2 separate regions of the Homo sapiens genome follow, and region 1 is linked to region 2. The links come from fine-mapping of genetic effects on gene expression. A gene starts in region 2. The other region holds a variant in brackets. All regions are shown on one strand. Distances are from middle to middle.

Evidence for each region. PIP is the estimated chance that this variant, and not a neighbour inherited with it, causes the effect. A credible set is the group of variants that fine-mapping cannot tell apart.
Region 1: its variant is the best candidate, but not a certain one, in a credible set for the expression of CSN1S1 in fibroblasts (GTEx, PIP 0.86).

What each region holds. Positions count from the first base shown.
Region 1 is chr4:69,674,521-69,677,453 of GRCh38, reverse strand. No RefSeq gene overlaps it. Among named protein-coding and RNA genes, the nearest start is that of UGT2A1, 23 kb to the right of the region's middle. The variant T/C (reference allele first, on the strand shown) is at 1,454.
Region 2 is chr4:69,929,541-69,932,473 of GRCh38, reverse strand. It overlaps CSN1S1 (casein alpha s1), which reads right to left and starts at 1,406. Exons shown (of 16, transcript NM_001890.2): 1 at 1,357-1,406.

The DNA.
Region 1 (2,933 bases), 260 kb after region 2:
GTTATTTTATAATGTACAATTATTATTCACTATAGTCACCCTATTCTGCTATCAACAGTAGGTCTTATTTATTCTTTCTATTTATTTTGTAGACATTAACCATCTCCACCTCCTTCCTCCCTCCAGCCCCTCACTACCATTCTCAGCCTCTGGAAACCATCCTTCTTCTGTATGTCTATGAGTTCAGTTGTTTTGACTTTTGGATTCCACAAATAAGTGAGAACATGTGACGTTAGTCTCTCTGTGCCTGTCTTATTTCACTTAAAATAATTATCTTCAGTTCCACCAATGTTGTTGCAAATGACAGAATCTTATTCTTTCTTATGGCTGAATGGTACTCCATTGTGCATTATGTACCACGTTTTCTTTATCCATTTATCTCTTGATGGACACATACGTTGCTTCCAAATCTTGACTACTGTGAAGAGTGCTACAACAAACAGGAATGCAGATATCTCTTCAATACACTAATTTCCTTTCTTCTCACTATATACCTAGCAGTGAGATTGCTGGATCATATGGTACCTCAATTATTAGTTTTCTGAGGAACCTCCAAACTGTTCTCCATAGTGGTTGTATTAACTTACATTTCCACCATCATTTCCTTTTTCTCCACATCCTCAGCATCATTATTAATGTCTGTCTTTTGGATATAAGCCATTTCAACTGGGGTGAGATGATAGCTCATTGCAGTTTTGATTTACATTTTTCTGATGAACAATGATGTTGAGCACATTTTCATATGCCTGTTTGCCATCTGTATTTCTTCTTTTGAGAAATGCTTACTTCTGCCCATTTTTGACTGGATTATTAGATTTTTTTCCCCTATAGAATTGTTCAAGCTCCTTATATACTCTAGTTATTAAGCCCTTGTCAGATGGGTAGTTTACAGATATTTTCTCCATTTCTTTGGGCTTTCTCCTTACTTTGTGAATTGTATTTTTTTGATGTGCAGAAGCTTTTTAACTTGTGATCCCGTTCTTCTGTCTTTGCTTTGTTTGCCTATGCTTGTAAGGAATTGCTCAATAAATTTTTGCCTAGAACGATGTCTTGGAAATTTTCCCAAATGTTTTCTTGAAGTAGTTTCGTAGATTGAGGTCTTAGATATAAGTCTTTAATTCATTTTAATTTGATTTTGGTAGCTGGTGAGAGATAGGAGCTAGTTTCATTCTTCTGCATATGGATATCCAGTATTCCCAGCACTATTTATTGAAGAGACTGTCTTTTCTTCCAGTGTATATTCTTGGCACCTTTCTCAAAAATGAGTTCACTGTACGTGTGTGGTTTTTGTTTCTGGGTTCTCTATTCTGTTCCATTTGTTTCTGTGTCTGTTTTTATGTGAGTACAATGCTGCTTTGGTTACTATAGCTCTGTCATATAATTTGAAGTCAGGGAATGTGATTACCCCAGTTGTGTCTTTTTCCTTAGGATACCTATGGCTATTTGGGGTCTT[T/C]TGTGGTTCCACACACATTTTAGGATTGTTTTTTCTATTTCTGTGAAGAATGTCATTGGTATTTTTATAGGGATTGCATCGAATCTGTAGATTGCTTTGGGTAATATGGACATTTTAACAATATTGATTCTTCCAACGAATGAACATGGAATATCTTTTCATTTTTAATTTTATGTGTAGCTATTGTAAATGCTATTACTTTTTTATTTCTTTTTCATATTGTATGCTGTCAGAATGTAGAAATGTTGCTGATTTTTGTATGTTGATTTTATATCCTGCAACATTACTAAATTTGTTTATCAGGTCTAGTAGTTTTTCAGTGGTGCCCTTAGGTTTTTCCAAATATATTATCATATCATCTGCAAACAAGGATAATTTGACTTCTTCCTTTCCAATTTCCATGTCCTTTATCTTTCTCTTGTTTGATTGCCCCAGCTGGGACTTCAAGTACTATGTTGAATAACAGTGGTGACAGTGGGCATCCTTGTCATGTTCCAGATCTTAGAGGAAAGGCTTTCGGTTATTCCCCATTTAGTATGATACTAGATATGGGTCTGTTGATATTGTTTGGATTCGTGTCCATGCCCAAATCTCATGCCTAATTGTGATTCCCAGTGTTGCAGGAGGGGCCTGTTGGGAGCTGACTGGATCATGGGGGTGGATTTCTTCCTTTCTGTTCTCATGATAGTGAGTGAGTTCGCACTAGATGTAGTTGTTTAAAAGTGTGGAGTACCTCCCGCTTTGCTCTCTCTTCCTCTTGCTCTTGCCATGTGAAGACATGCCTCCTTCCTCTTCACCTTCTGCCATGATTGTAAGTTTCTTGAGGCTTCCCCACCCGTGCTTCCTATGCAGCCTGAAGAACTATGAGCCAATTAAACCTCCTTTCTTTATAAATTACCCAGTCTCAGGTAGTTCTGTATAGAAATGCAAGAATATACTAATATATCTGTCATATATGGCTTTTATTATGTTGAGGATTGTTTCAAGACAGTGTTGGAAGAATGAGCTGAGCACTCAAGTGAGGGGGATGGGAAAACTAAAACTTTATTACTGTGAGCAAATATCACAACAAAAACAGCCTTGTAACAAGAGAAGAAAAAAGTGTAACCAAAGCTCAACAAAATGTAACCAGAAGCTCATCAGACCACAGGAAGAATCATCACCGGAGTCAGAAGGCAGACGCCTAGCATCCTGGAGTAAAAGTTGTAAGCAAATATCACAGCAAAAGCAGCATTAAGTAGGTATAAACGAACCAGCAAAAGAAGACAACATGTAACCATAGCTCACCAGACCACAGGAAGAGTCATCATCAGAGTGGGAAGGCAGACACCTGGGATCCTGCAATTGGCGTTGGTGCTGTTCCCCAGCACACAACAGCCTTCAATCCTCCTTTGTGTAAACTCCCTTTATTAAGTCCAGTTGTTACTTTGGGCACCCTCTTTTGTTTGCTCAGGAGGCCCCTTCCCAAGCAAGCAACACT
Region 2 (2,933 bases):
GATTTTTCAACAAAGGAGCAAATTATGATAAAAGTAGGCTGATTTGAGGAGCTGTAATGTGAATTTTTATAAACTTAAGATTTTAAAAACTTTACTACTCAATATCAATGTTTACCATTCTAGTTATTTTTCTTAGTTCTTATATTATTTAGAAATACTAATTTCTTACAAACATTTTTCTTCACTAACACTTTAAAACATAACATTTTGTTCTTAATGTAATAATATGGCTTAGAGAAATAAAGAAGTGCTAATATTGAAATACAATTGAAAAAAGAAAACACTTTTCCTCCTAGATGACAAATCAGATTTTCTAAAGTGGGCAATAAAGTTAAATCCACTGAGAACTGGAATTTAATTTTATTGAAAAGTTTTGAAAATGAGCTTCTCTTTTAAATCTATTTGAGAGCATTCTTTTCTTTTAGAGTCTTCATGAAAAATCCTGTCTGCACGTTATGTAAAAGCTATTGATCTCTTTCAATTTTTAAATAAAGAATCTAGCCATAACTTCGTGTTTTGCTACATTGGAATATTCATGACATAAATATATAAAGATGATTGAATTGGATAGAATCAAAATATTGACATGTCTTATATTTGATTTCCAGAGTTTCATTAAATTGCAAGAACCCCGAAATATGGACATCCACATGTACTGGGAAAATGGTTTCCAGAGAAATCATTAGAAAAAAAATCAGGTCACACATACTATTTGTTCACACCTTAATCAACATACAAATGCTGACATTTATATATATTGCTTCAGTCTACAAATTTTAGAATCTAAATGTGTTAATAAAAAAGGCATATTTTTGAACCCAAATAAATTTACTATTTGTGTCTTTCTGAATATCTAAATTTAATAATCATTACAAAGTAGCCATCAATAGCTAATTATCTATAATAGATATTCACATTGTAGAGTTAATTTTGTTGCCCAAATGACATGAAACAAAAATGGCCTTGAACTATTCTGCTAGAAATGGTTTTTGCTATGGTAATTACAAAAATAAGAAATTATTTGCATAACAACTTCTCATAGAATTAGGTAAAAATAATTTAAATTAGCTTACCCCAAGCCTCTACTGAAATTATGTATCAACTTTAAAAATATATTTTAGTTACAAAATTATCAAAAAATGATTTGGTATTTTTATAAAACTGTATTGATTCATCACCTAAAGCTGTAAAATGGTATCAGAATTTGCAAAAGGATTTTTAAGGTGCCAGAAAATCATAAGAAGTTTTAATATTTGCAAACATATGGAAATGGTACAAATATACTTAGTAAACAGTGGAAGAAAGAGATTAGATAATGTAAAATGATAGCAATTTTGCTGTATGTAAACGCAGTACCTTAAGCCCAAGTCTGGAGAGAAGCAAGTTGTGTTGATGACCAAGATGATGGCCGATCTCTTTGCTTTACGCTATTTAAATGTGGTAATTAGAAAATGCTAATTTTGTGGTTTCAGTTCAACCAATAGGTTTATTTAAATTCTAAGAATTCTCCCAAATAGGAAACTAATTTTCTGTCCAATTCCTTTCCCAGGAAATTCTGAGAATTTTCAACAGGGAGTGATTCATGCTATGATAACAGATTACACAAGAAATAAAGTGGCATTATTGCAAATTAAAATACAAAAATTTCCAAATTTATGGCTATTATAAAAACATGATTTTATGTTGAAGGGATAATTTGACAGGAACATATTAATAAAATTCTCTGTATATCTTTTGAAAAATTCAATTCCTATAATGGAAATCCTGGGGACAAAATAGGGTCTTAGAAACGTTCCAATTTCTATCAGTGTACCAGGCCATTAAAAGAATTCATCATTTATTTACCTTTTAAAATGCAGCTTGTCCTCTATTATTTATTGTGACTATCTGCTTTATGGATTAACTTATACTGTATATGCTCTGATCTTTTTTTCAAAGAAGGATATCCAACTGTCCTATGTGTTTTGGTGATATTTAAGCTACAGCAGACAATTTTTTGTTTGCTTTCTTTTAGGCATATTGGTTGTGATAGTATTTATTTAACAAATTATAACATTGACTAATTAGAAGTAATATTTATTCATTAATTTTAATTTTAAAAGATTTTGGAAAATTATGCCATACCTCTGATTTCCTGTTTTTTAAAAGTAAATAAAGGAAAGAAATGAAAATGCCTCTCTCCTATCCCAGACTCTGTTCCTTTATGTTAACTATCATTATACAATGTAGAAAAATACTATATCCTGAGGAAAATATCTGTAATAGAGAGGGTTTTTAAAAATTGTTGTTGACTGCGACTTTGCTTTTTTACAGGAAAAGAATCATACTATATATTTTAGGAAATAAAAAAATAGTAATGATATTTACAGCCTTTTCACAGTCATATGAAAAGGGCATTATTCTGGGTTAACACACATTTCAGACTGGTTAATTTCAGATTGGGGATCAGAAGAGATGTACTTTTCCATATTAAAGTTCTCTTTAGTTAGTGTTTTCCTTACTGACTACATCACATAAATTTCAACAACTTACTAGTGTTTCCTATTCACTGTGATTCATTTAAGAGGCTGAGACAAGCATCAGCTGTATTACAGTACCTTGGTTTTGTCTTTTCCCAGAAGTGTACCCAGGAAAACTGATTTATTTTACTCCTAACTCAAAATCAAGCTATACCTACCAACCAAAAAAAAGGCCAGGACCAGATGGATTCACAGCCGAATTCTACCAGAGGTACAAGGAGGAGCTGGTACCATTCCTTCTGAAACTATTCCAATCAATAGAAAAAGAGGAAATCCTCCCTAACTCATTTTATGAGGCCATCATCATCCTGATATCAATGCCTGGCAGAGACACAACAGAAAAAGAATTTTAGACCAATATCCCTGATGAACATCGATGCAAAAATCCTCAATAAAATACTGGCAAACCAAATC